Linked DNA regions of Homo sapiens. The protein of the gene in region 2 purifies or fractionates together with the protein of the main gene of each other region. This does not show direct contact. Each region holds a gene or a part of one and is shown on either strand. Other genes may lie near its edges. The genes, in order: MRPS5, CCDC59, HERC5 and EDC3.

Region 1 (5,981 bases), on a different chromosome or scaffold from region 2:
TATTAGATGCCAAGTATTGTATATTTTACTTTATTGGGTATATTTTTTGTATTCCTATATTCTTGAGCTTTGTTCTGGAACACAATTAAGTTACTTTGAAACAGTTGTGTTCCAGTTTGGTCTTGTTTTTAAGCTTTCTGAGTTGGGACCAGGGGTAGTTTTTATGTAGAGTTAATTTTTCTACTACTAGGGCATCTTAGTTCTCTTCCAATGCCACCTAGATTACAAGGTTTTCCACTGTGACTGTTGATAACAGGCACTATTTTCCACTCCAAACACTGTTCCCTCTAATTCTTTTGGGTGAGTTTCCTCACCGGCATGCACTATTAGTGTGTAACTAAATATCTGATGGAAACTCTCTGCAGATCTTAGTTCTCCTGCTGTGCAACTCTCTCCTCCAAGGCATTCTCCCCTGTGAACTCTAGTCATTTCGACTGCCCAACTGCACCTCAACTCCAGGAGACCGCCAGGTCCTGATGGGGTAACCCTTCCTAGAACCACGGACTCTCCGCAGATAGTAAGTACAGATAATTTTGTTTCCCCTCTCCAAAGGATCATTGTCTTTTATTGCTTAAAGTTCATTGTCTTTATATTTGTTAGGTACTTAAGAAGGAAAACTAACAGGACAGATAAGTTTTAGGAAATAACTACCTTACTCTAGCAAAATACCACACACAAAAAAAGGGGACCCACCCACACCAGACAACGTCACAGGCTGAAAACTTTCACCATCCAGCCTAACATGGCCTGCTCCCTATCCCACGGTGCCATTAGGGTGCTCCTCCTACTTCCAGCAGAAAGGCCTCAGCAGAGGTCCCGAGGACAGCGACAGGAGGAAACCTGGATCTCCATCCTCACCAGGCAGTAACGAGGCAGTGCCCCATCCCATACCAGCACCGTCAGAGGAAGCATGCTGAGAGATTTAAATAACTCCCAGAGCTTCATAACAGTGAAGATGACCAGGATACAGCCAAAGTCACTCATCATAACAAGAACTAGGACATTGTAAACTTGAATGAGAAAAAACCTCAAGGGATGTCAACACTAAGATGACACAGATGTTGAAACTTTATGACAATTTTTTTTTTTTTTTTGGAGACAAGGTCTCACTCTGCCACCCAGGCTGGAGTGGCATGAACAAGGCTCACTGCAGCCTCAACCTCCTGCAATCAAATGATCCTCCCACTTCAGCCTCCTATGTAGCTGGGACTACAGGCATACACCACCATGTGTGTCTAACTTTTAAATTTACTTTTACTTTTTGTAGAGATGAGGTCTCACTTTGTTGCCTAGGCTGATCTCAAACTCCTGGGCTGAAGCAATCCTCCTGCCTCACCTTCACAAAGTGCTGGGGTTATAGGCGTGAGCCACCACACCTACCTGATGACAAAGATTTTAAAGCAGCCACCATAAAAATGCTTCAGTGAGCAATTATAAACACTCTTGAAGCCATTTAAAGAAAAAAAAAGTCTCAGCAAATAGCCTCAGCAAATAAAGAGAAGACATAAAAAATAAACCAAATGGAAATTTTAACTGAAATATACAATGACAGTCAAAGTTAAAGTACTGCATGGATGGTTCAAGAGCAGAATGGAAAGGAAAGAGTAAATAACCAGTTATTCTGAAGATAAAACAATAGAAATTACCTAAACTGAGCAACACAGAGAAAACAGACTGGAAAAAAAATAAACAGCGCCTCAGGGACTCACGGGACAATAGTAAAAGATTCAACATTTTGGTCATCAGTGTCCCAGAAAGAGGATGTGGGTGGGGCAGAAAGAGTATGCAAAGAAATAAAAATATATATATTCCACAGAATGGGTAAAAACTTCTGTAAAGCATGTATGATAGGGGGGCTTATATCTAGAAACTATAAGGAACTCAATAATAATAAAAAATAACTTTTTAAATGGGCAAAGGCTCTGAATAGACATTTCTCCAAAAAACATATACAAATGGCCAATCAGCACATGAAAAGATGTTCAACATCATCAGCCATCAGGGAAATACAAGTCAAAATTGCAATGGTATACAATTAATATACCATTTAACATTCCCAATAGTAGCCTACAACTTCCATTTCCACTGTGGAAAACGGTTTGGAAGTTCCTCACGGTAGTCAAGTTACTTAACTGCTCTGTAAAATGAAGTTAATCACATTCACTTTGGATGAATGAGTTCATATATATTAGCTATAATTACTACAGCAATTATCATTGTGTACATTATTACTGATTGGGTCAAATTATTAACCCCGTCTCCCTAATTCATTTACTTTTGTTACTTTGGATGAATATTTAAAGTAGTCTTGAACTGAGATATGTATGTAAAGGTTCTATCACATTGGCATATAACATGTGCTCAACAAATGAAAGCTATAATTATTTATTTCCAAAGAGTTTAAAGATTAAACTTCCCTCAAAACAAACAAAAGGCAAGGTAACATCCCAAGCTGTGAGGGGCTGAGTCTCTCCTAGGTGCAGGGCAGCACAGGAACTGGCTGCACAAGGCCAGAGAGGTTACGTGGCGGCTCTCTTCAAATTAGACCACACAGAGCGCTTCATTCCCTGTGCAGTCTTCACATCTTCCCAGTCCAGTTTGACGTCTGGAACCTCATCTTCTGGCTCTGGATCCTTCCTCAAGGGCCCCCGGGGGGACGCAACCACAATGGGCAGAGGGCCACATTCCTCCCGGATTTCCACAACATGGAGGCCCTTCTTATCAGCCAGCTGTTGATGGGTTTCCTAAGCAAGACCAAATTCAGAACAGGTTAGGTCTGAAGTACATTTGCAACATAAAGAGCAGGAACTTCCACAGGCCACAACAGTACAGCCTGGGGGTATTCAAAGGCCATTTCAGTGGATTTGGGTTAATGTGTTTTGTGGCTAAACTCTAATAACCTGTCATGGGTGGAGTCATTTCAGCCTCATCTGCTGCATCTGCCCACCCCAAACTTGGATAGAGGAAGGGCCTTGGCCTCTGGTCTCTTGCCTTCTAAACCCTCCTGATTATGCACCATGCTGTGCCAAACACTGAACTTGAATCTCACCAACCCCCTAGATCTAACTACCAATTTACAGTAAATATAGGGGAGATAAGACACTAAGGACCCTACAGGTATTTTAGTCAGCAACAGGCCAGGAAGCACTACAAAACAAACAACCTGGTTTCCTCAACAAAAAATCATAAGCGGGGCGGGGGTGGGGGAAGAGGAGGGGAACCTATTTAAAAGGCATAGCAAAAACATACATTAACCTGTTCTGCAACCTGATTCAAACACATTGTGTAAAAAAAAAAAAAATTTTTTTTAATCTAACAAATGGAATTTGCTCATTTGTATGAACATTGATTGGATATTTGATGATACAAGTTACTGTTAACTTTTTAGGTATGATAATAGTATTACAGGGTATTTTTTAAAATCCTCATCTTTTCGAAGATACATACTAAAATATTTAGGGTTGAAATAAAATGTCTGAGATTTGGTTCAAAATAACTGGGGGTGTACTAAGAAGCAAGACTGGTCATGAGCTGGGTAACAGGGCCATGGGGATTCACTGCAGAGGGAAGCCACAGAGATCTGGAAGCAGGCAGATTAGTTCAGTAGACGTTATTCATGGTACAATGACATACCTGCTATGTCAATCCCGTGATCCCAGGCCTTATGGCTGCCTTGCACTATTCTAATTATATATCTAATGCCCTGCAGTATGTGTGAAATTAGAAAACAGATGAGCCATTTCATAAACAAAATAATTTATATTGGTGTATCTTTCAATCAAAGGCATATCACCTAAAGTGGTGGCATCTTTTCCTTTTTGAGTGACATATTAAATAATGCAACCTTTTATAGCTGATGGCATTTTAGGAGAGATGACATATGGTAACTATATCAGAAGGTTTAAAAGACTAAAAGAAAACAAAGATATCACATAAAAGAACAAGTCTAGGCTGGGCGCGGTGGCTCACGCCTGTAATCCCAGCACTTTGGGAGGCCAAGGCGGGTGGATCACGAGGTCAGGAGTTCAAGACCAGCCTGACCAACATGGTGAAACCCCATCTCTATTAAAAATACAAAAATTAGCCGGGCATGGTGGCACGTGCCTGTAGTCCCAGCTACTCAGGAGGCTGAGGCAGGAGAATCGCTTGAACCCGTGAGGCGGAGGTTGCAGTGAGCTGAGATGGAGCCACTGCACTCCAAGCCTTGGTGACAGAGCAAGACTCTGTCTCAAAAAGCAAAAACAAACAAACCAAAAACCAAAAACAGAACAAGTCTACTGGATCATAAATACAACCTATCTAAAATCAACATCTTAATTAAACCTCTAATGTTTCAATTTACAAGTGCTCTGAAGGGTGTTTTAGACAGTAACACACACAAAAGCTGTTCAGAAAACAGAAGGCTTTTACCCAAAGCCTTCTTTTTCTTTTAATTTTCCTACTTTAAACAGAGACATGTAAAATTACTCCATGGATCACTTTACCTAAAACCCACCACTGTACTCCTGAAATGTCAGGAAGCCTGCCAAAGTCCTCAGCTAACAGAGTTCAGCAAATGGAGCCTATTGAACCTGGTTGTCTTTTCTGTTCATCCACCTATGCTAAGGTCTACCCATCCTTTCAAGAGACAGGCCAGCCCTCCTGGGCAGGTAGGGGAGCTGCCCAAGAATGGGGGCCCGGTGCAGTCACAGCCCTGCCCTCCATGGTGGGTGATTGGGAGCCGGGCCCAGGGCTCCCACCTATGAGGAAAAGTAACCTGATATGTTAATGTTCATAGTTCCCTACCAACCCAGGCATCAGTCCGAACCACCTACACAGGTAACAGGGAACTGACTGTGCCTGCCCTGTGTGCAGAGGTGCCCTGGGTGCTTCATCCTAGCCCCAACTGAAAGGACTAAATTAGGAAATGAACTTTCTCTTTTGATTTTACTTTTCTATACTGTTGGAGCTTTAGAACAAGCAGGTGTTATTTTCATAATAACATGTAGATTGTAATTATTGGCTTTAAAAATGCTGCTTAGAAAAACCCATGAAGTACTTTTTAAAAGGTAATTTTCAGGCCGGGCGCGGTGGCTCACACCTGTAATCCCAGCACTTTGGGAGGCCGAGGCGGGCGGATCACGAGGTCAGGAGATCGAGACCATCCCGGCTAAAACGGTGAAACCCCGTCTCTACTAAAAATACAAAAAATTAGCCGGGCGTAGTGGCGGGCGCCTGTAGTCCCAGCTACTTGGGAGGCTGAGGCAGGAGAATGGCGTGAACCCGGGAGGCGGAGCTTGCAGTGAGCCGGGATCCCGCCACTGCACTCCAGCCTGGGTGACAGAGCGAGACTCCGTCTCAAAAAAAAAAAAAAAAAAAAAAAAGGTAATTTTCATGAACTTGTCAATGGATTTAACTAAACTGATGCAGTCACAGACAACAAAGAATGCCCAACTCCTCAGGTGGCCCCAGGAAAGCATCTCCAGGAGGCCCCAGGGCATCGTAGCCCCAACACACACAACTGAAATACAAACTAGAACCTCTGTTTCAGACCCCGGGAAAGGATTACCTGTCTGGAGAGCCCACGGAAGAGGCCCTGGGTGAGGCTGAGCATATTAATGGACCCAGAGACCTTGGCATACATGTCTTTGATGCCAATGAGCCGGCAGATGGTGATGATGGCCCTGTGGCAGCGGAGGCCGTAACCTAGAAAAGGAGAAACCGGGTGAAACACAGCCCACTCGCCTGCAGCCGGAGGAGTCACCCTGCTGGCTTTCGCATGGCTTCAGGCTCTGGGCTTCGGGAAACTGGTTCATATTCTGGTATCACCACTTCCTAGTGAGCTGACCCTTGACAACTTACTTAACTTCCAAGATGACACTTACTCAAACAGGATACTACAAGGATTAAGAAGATGACATCTACAAATATCTTGAACACATTTTGAGGGCAAAAAAACAGGATTGTTATTGAGATTAATAAACATGCATGAAAATTCTTGG
Region 2 (3,626 bases):
TAACCTTTTGCTTTATCTGATTGTCACTGATTACTTTTTCCCCCATTATACCATTACTTGGCATTTATTCCTCTACAAGAACTTTGGAATTTTAAAGAGTAACTCCTTAATATAAGTTTTGCATAAAGTAGCTTTTAACAAAGTCGTTAAAATGAATATAATTTGACTTTCACTTGTCTCTCAAAAGGACTAGATCTCCTTCCATGTTTTGTCATGATTAAGTGTCTAGAAGTGAAAATGCACAAAAATTGTAAAGCAATTTACTGAAATAATTTATCCTCCATCATGATGTGATGTGTCTTCACCAATGTAGCCAAATTTAGGCTTTCTGGGCTGCTTACTTTAAATGCAATATAGTGCAATGCAAATTTCTAAAGCATTGCTTTTCTATGCAATGAAGATTAAGTTCAGTGTTATCTAAGCACTTTCTACTGATCTTGAAATGCAGAATAAATTAGTAGACTGAAAGAGCTCCCTAAAATCTTAATGCAATTTCAGACTGTATTTGCTATCATTTATAAAATTTTATTATTCAATATTTGGCAAGTATTATTGGTCAGCCCTTTTTGCTTACAATGACTATATATATATTTCAAGCCTTTCTCATTCTTCTGCAATTTGCAAAGCATGAGAAGCAGTTATCCCAGTGGCTTATCTCAGCTCACAAGGGTACCAACAAGGGAGACAGAGATAATGTTCTTAAAGTATAGGGTCCATAGGAACTGGAAAGCTTAATTCTTGCTGTGACACTGTGGGGTTTCCATCATTATTTAAAAGACCTTAGACTAACAAGCCATGTACATCCATTTAAGGGAATGTTTATAAATATCAGACTTTGAGTTCACTGCTTTGTGAAGGTCGCTTTGTTATATGGTGAGGGCAGTTTATTTCAGCACCCATCACCCTGTAACATGTACTTAAAATAAATAAAAAGTCCAAGAGGAGTCTTTGCCTCCCTCATCATTAAAATAAATTTTAAAACAACGTAACTGTTTACTAAATTGAAATATTTCATTGAAATGCTTCATTGATAGCTCTGATTCCTTATTTTTAAAAAATTTATTTCATATAAATCTCATATGGTACAAAAGTATTACATGCTTGGGCCTGTCTTGCAAAATAAGAGGTTCTTTCAGTTCTTCAGGCCAACCTTCCTTCAGAGGCAAATAAATAAGAAACATGTAGAACATATTTAGAAAATTTTTTACCATAATAAAAATATGTGAACATCTTATATTTAGCATAGTTTAGCAATCCAGTTTATGTCGACAAATTTAGTTCACTGCTGGGAGGCACATGTCACAGAAGAACCTAATAGGCAGCAGATATTTTAACCTGTAGGAACAAAATGTTTAACATTTTTCTTGTATTTTTTGAAGAAGGTACTCCATTTGTACATTCAAGTTTGGTTGGCCCTTTTTAGTCTTTTTGTTCAGTATTTTAAACACTTCCATTTTCTTCTTTTTGTACTGCCTTTGGGCTTCTTCTCTCTCCTGTTTTCTCCTCTCGAATTCCTAAAATTATTAACATATGTAACTTTCATTAGCAACAAACAGTAGATACAGTTCAGAAATTGTCTTGAAATAGCTATTACTAAGCAAACACTCTAAGGTTTGTCTCTTCTATTTTGCAAGATGTGCACTGTTTCTCCTAATTGAAGCAAAGTACCCTCTTTGCCTTCATATTATAATGACCCATGGTATAACAGAGAATTTTCATGATCACAAAGCCCCAGCTCTATATAAACAAAATTTTAAAAGGACATTAAATGTTTTACAGCATAATGGTCATTACTGCACTTCATCTGATATACTGTTTCCAAAGGTGACAGATGGTTGGAAAAAGCATAAAGCTGTGCTAGTTAATACTGGTCCAGTATTCCCATGAAGAAATTTTCCTGCTTTCTCCTAATCTGCCACCAGCTTAAGAACAATGAAAACATTTTTGATGTTAAGAATTCTTAATTACAGATATTCTAAAGCAAAAACAAGCAAAATTACATATCTTTAGGGTATTTTTAACTGACACATTATACTTTTTAAAGCTACAGATCAATAAAACTTCAATGGAAAAACAAGAACTACCACAGTTACAACAAAATGACAATTTTGTTGAGGCTGTGGGTAATTCTGTATTCATTTGAAAAAAGCCTAATTCTGGTCTACAATTCTGGTTTTCTAAATAATAGAGTGCTAACTTTTGCTAAGCTAAAATAATAGTTGTTTTTTTTTTTTAAACAGGCAAGAACACCTCTTTATAGTAAAAAAGTATTTTATTCTAACACCTCCCCTTTGCTTTTACTTTCTTCAATGTAATGTTATGAAAATCATCTATATTTTTCTTAGGTCAGTGGTTCTCAAGTTTTATCATACATAAAAATCTTTTGAGGTGCTTGTTAACAAGTGCAAGTTCCTGGACCAAACTCAGTGAAACTTTGTCCCAGATGTTCACAATATTGACCTATAAACAATGTGTTCAAAATCCTATTTTTGACCTACTAGTATTGCTTGACATAATACAAGCAAGGACTTGGAATAAGATGCAATCCTCTACCTTTGCTCAGACTACTCATTCATTCAACAAATATTTACAGAGAGAATACTGTGTGCCCAGCACCAAGAAGCACAACAGGTATAGTATATATATTTAGGATAAATAAGAAAAACTATACTAAATATTTTCAAAGTAGAACTTACTTGTTTCTTAGCAGCACGTTTGGCTTGTATCTGTTCATATTCTTCTTGTGCTTTTTGATTTGATGTTTTCTTTTTATTTTTCTTTGGAATTGTAAAGGAGCTTTTAATTGGGGGATGAGGAAACAGGACTTTATTAGTAAAATGTCCAAAAAGGTATTAAAAACACAGTTGTAGCTTTTAAGAGTATATATTAAATAAAAGGCACAAATGGGGATTCTTAGAGAAATATTTCAACTAGGAAAAAATATAGAAAGCTATGAAAAATCCTAAAATGTTAAAAAAAAAAACTTTTAAAAGTAATGAAACCAGTATATGAATGATAGAAATGCCAGACTGAAAAAAGAATTAAACTTGTTGTTTAAGGATGTTAAGAAAATTATGTGTATATATGAACTTTAATCTCGAAGTTTTCTGAGCCCCTCCTCTCTATTCCATTTTACCTACCTAGTCATGAATCACCATACCTTGGATCTAGATACCATTTTGAACTGTTCTATCTTTAACTACTTCTCACCTCTCTGAAGATGTCCTTTTTGTCAAGGCTAATCCAACTACTTGGAATTCCATTCATTTCCTCAGCATCCTTGATTCAGTAATAACTTTACTTTCCTCTATCATTCAACTTTTCACTATACTCTGTAACTACAATATAATATTTTAATAGCTACTAATCACTAGCGACTTTGGACTAGTGACTAGTGACTGCCTAGTCCACAAATCCAGAGACCTGTCCTCAGTCCTATTCACCTTCAACTTTATAGTACAGTAGCACACCCCTTATCCATGGTTTCCCTGTTCCACGGTTTCAGTTACCTGCAGTCAACAGAGGTCCAAAAATATTAAATTGAAAAATTCCAGAAATAAACAATTCATATGTTTTAAATTGTACACCACACTGAGTGTTTGCTTTAAGTGAAAAGGTAAAAGTTC
Region 3 (7,041 bases), on a different chromosome or scaffold from region 2:
ATCTGTCTCCCTTACTACACCATGAGCTTCTAAAGCACAGGGAGTATGTCTCTTTTATTCTTCATCGAGTCATCATTACAGTGCCCAGCACACAGCAAGTATTCAAATGTTTGCTGAATAAATGAACACATGCCAAAGGTCTGAGAGTCCGTATCGCAGAACCTCAAGATAGAAAGAAACATTACAGGTCTTCTAATCCAATCATCTTATTCTGAAACAATGGAGGTCAAGGATGCCCTATGATTATTTCATTTACATACCATATGTTCTTTTTGTGGCACAATCAAGGTATAATTAGTAAACAGAAGGAGCCCTTAATGATGAACTGATCCAATCCCTTCCCTTCACAGACGCACAAAAGGGCTTCTATTTTTGGTAATCTTTCCATGGTTGTATTTAGTAGCAATGACTCAGAATCTTACAGAAAGAAAGTTAAACTGGCCCCCACAGGAGGATTTTAGAAAACAAAAGAAAATGAGCTCTAACAAATGTTGATGAAATAGTCCACTGAGTAGTTTCTGGGTTGTTGATACAGGCAGCACTAAGTGTTGTAGGGTCCCAATAAAGGTACATAATTAGGGAACCATTTCACCTCGGACCCCCAGTGGGGCTGTGGTTCTGCCAAAGTTAAGAGAACTGAACTTTCCATCTTTCCTTGAAAGAAAGGAGCGAATGAGAAAACTTGCAGCTGAAATAGAAAATGCTAGTTGTGGCAAACAGAGCAAGTGCGGGAGCTGAAAGGAGGAAGGGTGAGAGATCAAAGATTGAGAGGGAAAGAGAAGAGGGATATGAACACAGAGAGAGATTAAAAAATGGGGTGAGGCTAGAGGGAGGAAGGAGGGGAGGAGGGAAGGAGAGAGAAAGAAAGAAGGAACTACAGTGCGACCCAGAGAGAAAAAAATGGAGAGTAGAACAGAAAGTAGTATCCCCATATCAACCAGTAAAATAAAATAGGGAAATAATAAAAACTACATTAAGAAAAACTAAATTAATAAACGAAGCATGCAGTAAGCCGAGATCGCACCACTGGACTCCAGCCTGGGCAACAAAGCGAGACTCCGTTTCCAAAAAAATAAAAATAAAAATAAAGGAAGCATGTTTGGAGCACCTGCAAAAAGAAAACCTAAAGATAGCAGTAACAGTGCTGAAACAGGAAACAATCATCCCATAAGGAACAAGAACATTCTAGAATCTACAGAAAAGTAGAATGGAAAAAAAAAAAAAAAAAGAATCCAGGCAGTCCCTGGTGAGAGGGATATTCATATCAGAAAAAATGTTCTCATTTCTACATTTATGCTTTGCATATAAAATGTTCTTATTCTAGTGTACCAATCTCAACAAATCCTTAATCATCTTCCTAAAGCCCTGAGTTGAAAAACTTCCCTCTACGAATGTGTATGCATATATGTGTATGTGTGTTTGTGTACAGACACACTATTTAGAATATCTGTAACCTGTGTGACTACTATGCCAACTATTTCACCCTAAAAGGGCAAACTCCTAAATGTTATCTGAGTTTAACTTAATCTGAATATGCTACAAGGTCTCGGAGAATCCCTTAACACAAAACATTTCTTCTGAAATTTTGAGTTCTTTTAAGAAATATTCTGGTGTATTTTCTTTCTCCACATAACAATCTGAAGATACCATGTTAGTAATCCAGTCCTTTTGGGTTAACTCCTTGAAGATGTTTCTTGCTTTATTTAAGTCCAAATAAACAGGCATCATTTCTGTAGTTCTTCTGTAGAAGAAAGATAAATTAAGTATTTTGTTAGATTATCTCCCTAGATGCAAAGTTTCTTCTAGAGCTTGCCCCATTTCAACAAAATTACCTTTTTTCTCAAGTGTGTAACTATAATAAATTGTCTAAATCCAAATGCAATGTAGTAAACATGATTTTTTCTAAAATACCAAAAAATATCAAGGCTGCTTTAACTGTATATACCATAAGACTTTAACTCAGATGCTGTCTTATCTGTAATAGATTAAAAAAATTAATATTTCCCAGTTTAAAAAAAATAGCCACAGAGGGAGGCTGAGACAGGATAATCGCTTGAGCTTGAGAGATCAAGGCTGCAGTGAGTTGTGAACATGCCACTGTACTCCAGCCTGGGTGACAGAGCAAGATCCTGCCTCAGAAAAAGAAAGAAAGAAAAAAAGAAAAGAAAGAAGGAAGGGAAGGAGGGAGGGAGGGAGGGAGGAAAGAAGGGAGGGAAGAAGGGCGGGCCATAGAAAAAAGATAAAGGTTTTTCGAAGGAAGGAAGGAAGGAAGAAAGGACTGACCACAGGAAGGAAGGAAGGAAGACAGAAAAAAGATAAACATTTTTCCCATTTCTAAAAAATACATCCATTTCTTCCCGTTAAATGGACTGAAAAGTGGGAACCAAAAGAGAGGGCTTCTGACCAATAATTTCTTAGTACTTCAATATAAAGTTATTAATGAAATGTTTAAGTATCTTCTCATGGAAGACCTTCTAATGGAAGGTCATGCAGCCATTAAATTATGTTACCGGCTGGGTGCGGTAGCTCACACCTATAATCCCAACACCAGGAGGCTGAGGTGGGAGGACTGCTTGAGGCCAGGAGTTCAAGACCAGCCTGGGCAACATAGCAAAGCTGCTGTCTTTACAAAAGCTAAAAAATTAGCAGGAGGTGGTGGCACGTGCCTGTAGTCCCAGCTACGTGGAAGGCTAAGGTGGGAGTTTTGCTTGAGCCCAAGAGTTTGATGATGCTTGAGCCCAAGAACCAAGATGCTGTAACTCCAGCCTGGGTGATGGAGTGAGACCTTGTCTCAAAAAAAAAAAAATTACCAAAAAAGATAGAATAAAATGTAAAATGGGCAAATATTAGGTAGAAAACAATGTATAAACAATATGATCCAGCTGGGCATGGTGGCTTACACCTGAAATCCCAGCACTTGGGGAGGCCAAGGCTGGTAGATTGCCTGAGCTCAGGAGTTCGAGACCAGCCTGGCCAACATGGTAAAACTCTGGCTCTACAAAAAAATACAAAAATTAGCTGGGTGTAGTGCCATGTGTCTGAAGCCCCAGCTACTCAGGCTGAGGTGGGAGGACTGCTTGAGCCTAGGAGGCAGAGGTTACAATGAGCCAAGATCACAGAACTGCATTAAAGCATGGGCAACGACAGGGCAAGACCCTGTCTCAAAAAAAAAAAGAAAAAAACAAAGAACCAGTATGATCTCATTTTTTTTAAAAGAATACATTTGCATGAAAAAATATAATCATATACGTAAGTGCTAGCTATTACTCTTAAGTGATGGATTATGGAAGATTTTCACTTTCTTTTTATTGTGTGTATTTTTGACATTTTCTACAGCAAACATATATTTACTTTTGTTAAAAAAAATTTTTAAAAAGGGATGAACACACAGCTATTTTACTCTCCAATCATTTTTTTATCCTCTTTCACGGTACTCTTAATACAATTTAATACAATTAATTTATTACATATATTACCTTTTCCTTAAAAAACTTCCAGTTAGACAAGCAGGAGATGAAAATATCTCTTGGATTTCCCTATATTAGTAATAAGACACTGGTTAAACCAAATCACATGGTATACATACATACAGCCTCTTTCTTTACAGCATGAGACATGATAAATACCACATCTTATAACTATCCTTCCAACCTCTCCATTTGTCTCCTATCTGTATGCATATTACCTTGGCTTGGCTTCTAAAAGTCCATTCTGTTTGGTAAATCTCAAAATTTCAGTGGCAAACATGGGAAATAAAAAAGTTTATACATACTCAGAGAAGCCTCAAATAAAGAGGAAAGGCTTGATTTATGGTCAGAACTTTCTTGAACAAACAAAATACTCCCACCCCACCAACTATGCAAGTCCTATTTATTTCTATTCCACTGAAGTAGAAATAAATTACCAGAAATTAAATGGGGGAAGGAGTATGCTCAGTTTCATCTTAGAAGTAGTTGTACAGTTCTTAATTATTTATGCTCTGCAAATTATGATGCAACTATTTTGTGCAACTACTTTGTACAATCATTTTCCAGAATTAGAAAGCCATACCTAAAAATATTTCTAAAAGATGATGTTTGTAAGAATAGGTAGGAGTTCTGTAAACCTATAGGAGTTCTATGGTTTAGAGAAGAATGGTACAAATTGTTCAGCTAAGAATAACAGGTACACAAACTAATGGTTCCAGGATCAAATGGGACTGGGAAACACTATAGACTCTATTTTCTGGCCAGAGAGTCACAATATACATAAACAGAGGCCTGGAGAAGCCCTACAGTAAAGAAAGCTGTCCTCATGGCGCTTACATGCTAGTTGTGATGGGTTAGTTTTATATGTCAACTTGGCTAGGCCATGGTACCAAGATATTTGGTCAAATATTATTCTGGATGTTTCTATGAAAGTATTTTTTTAGATGAGATTAACATTTAAAATGGTAAACTGAGTAAAGCACTTGAACAAGTGAATAAAAAGAAAGGACCTTCCATAATGTGAGTGAGCCTCATCCAGTTGAAGGCCTTAAGAGAAAAGGCTGAGGTCACCCAAAGAAGAGGAAATTCTGCTTTTAGATTGCCTTCAGACTTGAGCTGCAACATCAACTCCTCCCCAAGTCTCCAGCCTGCTGGCCTGCCCTACAGATTTTGGACTTGCCAGCCCCTACAATCTCATAAGCCAATTCCTTAAAATAATCTCTCTCTCTCCCCTCCATAGATACATAGATGGACAGACAGACATGATAGAGATAAAGATAGAGACAGAAATACACACATATCCTATGAGTTTGTTTCTCTGGAAAACCCTGACTACAAAATCTCATATTGCTGTGCAGAACCAGTTTGGGAAATGATACTTGAGAGTGATATATAAGCAGAGAGTCAGACTGTGGGGTGTACCTTTTTGTGCTCTGCCACCGTTTAGTCTCCACATCAGCAATCCATCTCTTTACAGTCCCTTCATTCAGAGTAGGAATTGTCCTCTTCAGATTAACATATGAATTCTGTAAACAAACAGGAAAGTAAAATACAATAATTTAGACACATCAGAGATAGGCACCCAACTTTTAGGTACACTCTAGAGAGTAAAACTGACTTTTAAATATGTGTAATACAGCCCTGGGACAATCACAAAGTGATACTCAACAAATAAGTAATCAATCATTTGCCTGGTTGCCACTTTCTTGTCCAAGGGGGCTTAGACTGAAAGTAAATTTCTTTGAGGACTCAACACTCAGCACTTTATACAAATACAATCAAATTAAACTGAACATCAGACAGCCTTGAAGGGAAGGGAAGATCCTGAAAGAGCTGTGTGCAGAAGTGTGAGGAACTCGATTTCACTTGGTGAAGTAGGGCAGGGAAGTTATGGACTTTTTATTTGCAAGCCCATGAACCTTGGTGTCTTTCTTAGTACTGGCCTGCAAAGTCATTTTTAGAATCTGTCACTCTGTTGTTTGCAAGGATACTGACCAAACATCATTGGCAAGTAGCCCCCAAAAGGTAAGTATAGCCTATGGAAATCACACTGATTAGACATTCACCAGAGAAAAATCTGCTGATTTTTGTGGGAAAATACTGATGTAGTTTAGACAATAAAGGATCAGTAATGTCCAGCTATCCCCCAAAAAGTCAGCCTGGTAAACTGATGATTTTGGAATTCACCAAACTGGGATACTAGAACCCTTAGTTTTGCTTAAAATACCAGGTTATAGAACACCTGGAGATCTATTTTTACCTCTTTCTTTATCCAGAGCAAAATGCTTTGATTCCCTCCAGCAATCATTATTAACTCCTTTTCTGAGGTATGGCTTTCTGAAAGGATGCACAAAGAGTAAGAGTTTTAGAAAGTCATTTGGCACAAACATGCATGTTCAATTTAAATAACTTCAGATTCTTCTTAAACGTAGTCATCTTTTCTTCTTAATAGACAAAACTTAGTACATTTTCTGCCAATTAAGCAGCTGAAATACATATCCTTTGGAGTAAAGTCTAGTTGGCAAACATAGGTAATTCACAAGGTGGACATGTGACATCAGTTTAATATACATAATACAAATATTTATATATAAAATGCAAATATTTGATTAGCTAAATGTTATCAGTTTAATTCAACTCCCATTACTAAAAACCATGTTTTCAAGATTTAAGCAATGACTGCTGGCTATAAAGAATATAAGTACTTTAAGCCCATGTAACTGTTATAAGGAATCAAAGATAATACATGCTGCTTAAGGAAATAACTCTGTTCGTTTTCCTACAAGAAATGAGTAGATTTTGTTACTTGAGGTCACCACTAAGCTTTCAGAAACAAGTAACAGAAATGCTCCAAGGTGCTTCTACAATGGAGTGTTTCAGAGCTCAGACTCTGAGGTCATAAAGGGCACGGGTTCAACTCCAGACAAACCACTTACTGGCCATGATTAAGTGGCTAACCCTTTTCTCTCCAAGTCTCTTTATCCTCCAGTAAAAGAGGAGTGACAGAATACACCTCCCAGGAACTGTTACAAGGATTGGTGAGATAACACAAGTAAGTGCTGAGCACAGTTCAGTGCCAGGTATACGTTGATTGCTCATTATTCTGAGGGTTTTATATGACTGTGGATCAACTTAACCAGGGCAACCAGCCAATTACAAGAATTAGTAAACAACTAATTACAAGAATTAGTAAGTCTCTTGCAAACTGGAATGAGAGCTGCATATGCCTCTGAATCCATTGTCTATTTTATCATTTAAATTCACATTAATCCTAATCTGAAGGAGTAATATAGAATAATTATTTTGCCTCAGTAAATTAGACTGACTCTTGAATTGTTTACCAGTAAAAAATGAAACCAGTATTTAGAGAAACTCCCTTCATAGTCATATGTTGCTTTCTTTGCCACATTACCTAGTTAGAAAAATCATTTTCTCTAAAAAGATACTATGCCAAACCCTATGTTCCTATAGAATTTACCAAGTTTGAGTTCTTCACTTGATGATACTTTCACTGGAAGCGGCATCAGCTGGTCACGTGTTCCACCATTTCCCAGTTGTCCATCTTTTCCAGAAC
Region 4 (7,041 bases), on a different chromosome or scaffold from region 2:
CTAAATATAAATGAGTTAAAGGCCAGCTATCTACTTTGTTTGTTTTGAGATGCAGTTTCACTCTTGTTGCCCAAGCTGGAGTGCAATGGCACGATCTCGGCTCACTGCAGCCTCCACCTCCCGGGTTCAAGCAATTCTCCCTGCCTCAGCCTCCCAAGTAGTTGGGATTACAGGCATGCACCACCAGGCCCAGCTAATTTTTTGTATTTTTAGTAGAGACAGGGTTTCGTCATGTTGGCCAGTCTGGTCTCGAACTCCTGGCCTCAGGTGATCTGCCCACCTCAGTCTCCCAAAGTGCTGGGATTAGAGACATCAGCCATCATGCCCAGCCTCAGCTATCTACTTTCATGTTCTACAGGCAAAAGAGCCTTAACTTAACTGTTAAATTTTTATTCAACTGCATGTTACAATGACTATTCAAGCTCATAGACTAAGATTTCAGAGAGGGATGCCTTTCATCTGCCCCTCATGGTCACCATTTTCAGCTGTGACATGGGATTTGATAAATATGAATTATACCCATACACAGAGCTGCACCCTAAACAAGGCTTGGTTTCCCTCTGCTCCCTGGGACTGATGTTATGTCTATTTGACAAACATTCTGAATGGTCACAGAAAAACTATTCTTTACATGATTCTTTAAACCCACTCCCACCCGAAAAGAGATTAAAATCTGCTTGTGCTAAATCATCAGTGTTGGATTAGCTAACTATTATAAACCAACAAATTCCTCAACTCCTTATTGCAATCCTGAAAGAACACTTAAAAGCCAGAACTGAAGACAGATTATATTTCTTTCTTTCCTTTTTTTTTTTTTTTTTGAGACAGAGTTTTGCTTTGTTGCCCAGGCTGGAGGGCAGTGGCACAATCTCAGCTCACTGCAACCTCCGACTCCCAGGTTCAGGCAATTCTTGTGCCTCAGTCTCCTGAGTAGCTGGCATTACAGGCACCCACCACCACACCCAGCTGATTTTTTGTATTTGTGTACAGACGGGGTTTCACCATGTTGCCTAGGCTGGTCTCAAACTCCTGAGCTCAGGCAACCTGCCCGTCCCAGCCTCCGAAAGTGTTAAGATTACAGGCATAAGCCACCACACCCGGCCGACAGATTATATTTCTATAGCTTCATCAATCTACTAGTCTCAATATCAATGTACATAAACTGGAGAAAATTCTAAGGCAGACCTTTTTACTTACAGGGCTCAATGAGTGGAAAAATAATTATAACTCTACCTTCTATCAGAAACCTATTCTGAGCCACGTCTTATTGCCATTCCCAGGCCACAAACATTTTCCAAACTAATCTGGATTCTACATAAGTTTCTTGAAAAATAGTAACATTTTACTGCCCTATGATCTCTTTACCTCATTTATGTACAGTTAACAATCTAGAAAAAGGAAACTGACAAAACAGCAAAAGCAGAATAACCAAAACCTGGAAGCCACCAAGATGTCCTGCAATAGGTGAATGGGTAAACAAATTGATATATCCACACAATGGAACATTATCCGTCAATTAAAGAAATGACCTATCAAGTCACAAAACGACATGAATGAATCTTAAATGCATCTTGCTAAGTGAAAGAAGCCAGTCTGAAAAGGGCTACATACTGTATGATTTTAATTATGTGATATTCTGGAAAAATGCAAAACTGCAGGGATGGTATAATAAAAAGATCAGTAGTTGCCAGGGGGAAGTGGGGGAAGTTGAACAGGTAAGGCACAAGAGATTGTTTAGGACAATGAAACTATTCTGTTTAATACTGTAATGACAGATACATGATGCTATGTATTTGTCAAAACCCACAGAATTTTACAGCACAAAGAGTGAGCCTTAGTGTTTGCAAATTTTTAAAAATCATTTAGGAGGTTAGAAGATCCCAGGATGGAATGCAGAATGTGATAAAACAAATTAATTGTATTATGAATATATGAAACAAGTCAATGAAGGAAATGGGAGACCTAAATAACTCTAGAAATGAATGGAGTCAGATGAAAGGCAAAAGAAACAGTACGTAAGCACCACATTCTGTTTGATAGTCTCCCACAGGAATGGCGATACAAGTTAATAATTCTGATACCACTATACATGTATACTGGAATTGAATAATTATGTAAAGAATGAATGACAATAGGAGACAGGTTTCTCACTGTTGGAGTGAGAAGTAACAGACAAGCAAAAGGAGAAGGCTAGAAGGATCCATGTGGTAATGGATTAAAGTTGGAGACATCAGTATGAACTCATACTTAGTATAGTACAATATACATAGTTACATATAGAAATATTTAAATATGTATATATATGCTGGTTAAATATACACACATATATTTTCTTTTCTGTGAACTCTGCAGAGAAGTATACACATTTTCTTGCTGTCAGCTATAAGGGTGACACCCAGGAGCAATGAGCATCCCTAGTGAAGAAGAAAGAAAGGAGAAGGGGGGAGGAGGGAGGGGGAGAGGGAGGGGGTGGAGGGAGGAGGAGGGAGGAGGAGGAGGAGGAGAAGCAGCAGCAGCAGCAGTAGTAGTAGTAGTAGTGGTAGTAGTAAGCATCTTTCAGTGTGAGAAAGTACCTAAGTACTAAAAAAAAAAAAAAATAAAATCCACAATGATTGGAGTATGTCAAAGGGACATGAGATCCAAGTGAAAGATTGGAGACTAGCCAAAACTGAAATAATTTGAGTACCAAAATAAAGTAATATTGAATTATAAGCCAAAGTATAAAATAAATACCCATGAGTACATGCTGATATAAATAAATGACTGAATAAATAAACAAATGGGGGAGAAGAGAGGAATCTCTGGCATAAAAGAATTCCAAGTAATGTCTGAAGATGCTGTGTCCTCAAGGAGAGGGGACATAACTTCTCACTCCCTGGGTGTGGGCTGCACATAGTGATTTCCTTCCAAAGAGTACATATGTAAAGGGGAAGAAAGAGTCACTTTACAGAGGAGAAACTAGATATATCCTACTTTAGCCAGGTGATCAAGGTGAACATCAAAAGTTATAAACCATGGTGATAATATATACACTTGACACAAGGTGATGAAAATGGTACTTTACCTCTGTTGTCTTCCACCCCCAAACATATAACCCCAGTCTAATCATGATTTAAACATCAAGTACCAACTGAGAGACATTCTACAAAATACCTGACCAGTATTCATCAAAATGTCTAGGTCATCAAAAACAAGGAAGGTCTGAGAAACTGTAAGAGCCAAGCAGAGAAATGACTACCAAATATGATGTGATATGCTGGACAGGATCCTGAAACAAGGGCATCCGGGTAAAAACTAAGGCAATCTGAATAAAATATGGACTTTGTTTAATGATAATGCATCAACATTGGTTCAATAATTATAACAAGTATACCATACAAATGTAAGACGTTAATAACGGGGAAAAATGTGTAGAAAAAAATAATATGAATTGCTAATAAGGGTCATCTTCAAGTGCACGGAAGATTATAAACTGCCTATTTGAACTTCTAACAAATCAACAATTTCTGCTAAAAGAAAAAAGATTTTCAGACAGGGCAACATAGTGAGACCTTGTCTCTACTAAAAGTAAAAAGACTAGCCAGGTATGGTGGCACACACCTGTAGTCCCAGCTACTCAGGAGGCTGAGGTGGGAGGATCATTTGAGCCTGGGAGTTCAAGGCTGTAGTGAGCTGTGATCGTATCACTGCATTCCAACCTGAGTGACAAAGCAAGACCCTGTCTCAAAAATGAATGAAAGAAAGAAAGAAAGAAAGAAAGAAAGAAAGAAAAAGGTTAAAGTCTAAATGGAAAGAATCATTTTCTATCCAAGCATTCTACAGTTTTTCTAAGGATACAGAAGTCACAACTGAATTTCAGTCTCATATTTGCAAACATCGTCATTTCAGATAGTTGTTTCATATGCACCAAAGGAAACTACCTTGAAACTGTATATTACATACATTAAAACATTTTTTTAGGCCAGGTGCAGTGGCTCACGTCTGTAATCCCAGCACTTGGGGAGGCCGAGGCAGGCAGATCAACTGAGGTCATGAGTTCGAAATCAGCTTGGGCAACATGGCATTATCCCATCTCTACTAAAAATACAAAAATTAGCCGGGCGCAGTGGCTTATGCCTGTAATCTCAGCACTTTGGGAGGCCGAGAGTTTGAGACCAGCCTGACCAACATGGAGCCCCGTTTCTACTAAAAATACAAAATTAGCCAGACGTGGTGGCACATGCCTGTAATCCCAGCTACTCGGGAGGCTGAGGCAGGAGAATCTTTTGAACCCAGGAGGCGGAAGTTGCGGTGAGCCAAGATCACGCCATTGCACTCCAGCCTGGGCAATAAGAGCGAAACTCTGTCTCAAAAAAAAAAAAAAAAAAATTAGCCGGGCATGGCAGCAAGTGCCTGTAGTACCAGCTTCTAGGGAGGCTGAGGCAGGAGAATCACCTGAACATGGGAGGTGGAGGTTGCAGTGAGCCAAGATCACACCACTGCACTCCAGCCCGGGCAACAGAGCAAGGCTCCATCTCAAAAAAAAAAAAAAATTAGTTTTAATTTAGTTGTTTATTCACTTGAATCAGGCATCTCCAAAACTTAAAATGTTGGCCCCTGACACAGGTGTCACACCACAAGCTACTAATAGAATTCACCCAGCACACTAAAACCTTACTACATTGCCACCAGGACCACAGTGTGAGGAGCAACAATGGTAGCAAGAAGTATCCGGAATTTTATGTAATAAACTTTCTGAGTGGGGTCTAGAGAGACCTAGCTCACTCTAAATTGTGCCTTTTAGAAGGTATTGCCATAGCATGACTCTAGCTTATAATTTTAAATGAGTTAATGAATACTCATTTAAAATTTCTTTTGGTTGTTCATTTTGAGACAGTCTCACACTGTCACCCAGGCTGAAGTGCAGTGGCATGATCTTGGCTAATCACAACCTCCGCCTCCCTGGCTCAAGCCATCCTTCCACCTCAGCCTCCTGAGTAGCTGGGACCACAGGTGCACGCTGCCACGCCCAGCTAATTTTTTTTTTTTTTTTTTTTTTTTTTTTGTAGGGATGGGGTTTTGCCATGTTGCTCAGGCTGGTCTCGAACTCCTGGGCTCAAGCGATCCACCTGCCCCAGCCTCCTGAAGTAGTGAGATTACAGGTGTGAGCCACTTGCACCCAGCCTCTCACTTAAAATTTCTAATACATTCTGCTACCATCTGTGAGTACAAAACCATCTAAGTAAAATAAGAATAGTTTGGCATTTGGAAGTAATTTTTTAAAACAACATTCATATTAATTTAAGGAGCATAACAGATTCCAGTGAATGTTATGATTCGCTATTGTAACATTATTCTAGTAAATATGTTGGAGAAGAACAGTTCTAGTGAATTAACTATGGTTTTGGAAGGCAGCTATGCTCACCATCATACCACCAACACAACTATGGTTTTATTTTATATTATTTATTTTATTTTTGAGACAGAGTCTCGCTCTATCGCCCAGGCTGGAGTGGCACAATATCAGCTCACTGCAACCTCTGCCTCCTGGGTTCAAGGGATTCTCCTGCCTCAGCCTCCAAAGTAGCTGGGATTACAGGCATGCACCTCCACGTCCGGATAATTTTTGTATTTTTAGCAGAGACGAGGTTTCAACATGTTGGCCAGGCTGGCCTCAAACGCCTGACCTCAGGTGATCTGCCCGCCTCAGCCTCCCAAAGTGCTAGGATTACAGGTGTGAGCCACCGTGCCTGGTCACAACTATGGTTTTATAATCAGCAAATGGCATTTAATAATGTGTTAGTATCAAACAAAACTGGGCAGCAACAGAGACCAATGCACATTCTTCTTGGTGTGTCAGTAGGAACAAATACAGCAAATTAAAAATTGTCTGCTAGAAAATCAAAGATCACAGAGATGTTTGGATCAGTCCCCTCCTCTCTTCTGAGGATGAGACTCAAATCACAGGAAGAAAAGTTACTCAAGAATCCTCTGGAACAGCCCAAGTGCAGGTTCAACTCAAACACTACTACCAACATCAGTAACAGGATTTAAGTTTTTTTTTTTTTCTTTTTCAGAAACAGAATCTCACTATTTTGCCCAGACTAGCCTTGAACTCCTGGGCTCAAACAATCCTCCTGCCTCAACCTCTCAAGTAGCTGGGACTATAGATGCGTGCCACCACGCCCAGTAGTTCCTGGATTTAAAACATCACTGTTAGTAAACTCTGGGCAGACTTTTCCTGAAGGAAGTGGTAAGAGAGGGCAGGAAGCTCACAGGCATCCCTAACAGCTTATTTCCTTTCCCTTAACATCTTGAGGAATGAGGCCTGGAGGAAGAGAACCATGTTGTATTTCTGTGACGCTCAGCCAGCATCCATTTTATTGGAATAACAAAGGATTTGTTTAAAGAGCAGCAGTGCTTATGGCTTATAGCCCTGAAACACCAGATTGAGAAGAAATATCAACTTGACCCTACTTACAGGAGTTGTGCCGACGACGGAAACTTTTGGACTGACTCAAGGATTCCATGTGCCTGTCGACATAGCTCTTTGAGCACTGTTGCTGCTGCGGGGAAACGGCAACATCCTGGCTCTTCACATCTGTCCTCTTAGGGATATTCTGAGGGGCACTGCTGGAAGAGGCTGGCTTCTTGACAAACTTGCCTGTGCCATTCTGATTGATGCCCACTTGGCAGCCAGCACCAGAGGGGCCTAATTCTGTTTGATGAAGGTCTCCAAAATGTTGGTTGTCTCCAGGTCCTGGTATCTCCAGAATTTTTAACTCCGTAATGTCACCTGCCCTGAAATACACAAAAAAGCCAAGTCTCAAAATTATAATAGTGGTAAGAATGATGAAACTGAGATCATTAGCAAACAGCTACCCCTTTGCAGGACTGCATTTTATTGAGTTATCAGAGGCTAGGAAAGGGGGCTGTGTGCTTAAGGACAGGGGTCAGCCACCAACTATCCAACTGACACAATGCTAGCCTTTAAAAAGAGGCTATTGGCCGGGCACGGTGGCTCACGCCTGTAATCCCAGCACTTTGGGAGGCCGAGGCGGG

The links.
Region 1: the proteins of CCDC59 (region 2) and MRPS5 purify together in Homo sapiens (affinity purification with mass spectrometry; 2 studies listed by BioGRID and IntAct, with this or other methods). This does not show direct contact.
Region 3: the proteins of CCDC59 (region 2) and HERC5 purify together in Homo sapiens (affinity purification with mass spectrometry; 2 studies listed by BioGRID and IntAct, with this or other methods). This does not show direct contact.
Region 4: the proteins of CCDC59 (region 2) and EDC3 purify together in Homo sapiens (affinity purification with mass spectrometry; 2 studies listed by BioGRID and IntAct, with this or other methods). This does not show direct contact.

The regions. Positions count from the first base shown.
Region 1 is NC_000002.12:95,084,838-95,090,818, forward strand, and holds the end of MRPS5 (small ribosomal subunit protein uS5m), read right to left. Parts: intron 5,686-5,981; coding exon 5,549-5,685; intron 2,745-5,548; coding exon 2,520-2,744; 3' UTR 532-2,519; downstream 1-531.
Region 2 is NC_000012.12:82,351,799-82,355,424, forward strand, and holds the end of CCDC59 (thyroid transcription factor 1-associated protein 26), read right to left. Parts: intron 2,797-3,626; coding exon 2,697-2,796; intron 1,515-2,696; coding exon 1,353-1,514; 3' UTR 505-1,352; downstream 1-504. UniProt on the Homo sapiens protein: Component of the transcription complexes of the pulmonary surfactant-associated protein-B (SFTPB) and -C (SFTPC). Enhances homeobox protein Nkx-2.1-activated SFTPB and SFTPC promoter activities.
Region 3 is NC_000004.12:88,467,109-88,474,149, reverse strand, and holds part of HERC5 (E3 ISG15--protein ligase HERC5), read right to left. Parts: coding exon 6,946-7,041; intron 6,520-6,945; exon of another isoform or gene 6,444-6,519; intron 5,805-6,443; coding exon 5,728-5,804; intron 4,994-5,727; coding exon 4,890-4,993; intron 3,537-4,889; coding exon 3,477-3,536; intron 1,742-3,476; coding exon 1,648-1,741; intron 1-1,647.
Region 4 is NC_000015.10:74,664,995-74,672,035, forward strand, and holds part of EDC3 (enhancer of mRNA-decapping protein 3), read right to left. Parts: intron 6,781-7,041; coding exon 6,461-6,780; intron 1-6,460. UniProt on the Homo sapiens protein: Binds single-stranded RNA. Involved in the process of mRNA degradation and in the positive regulation of mRNA decapping. May play a role in spermiogenesis and oogenesis.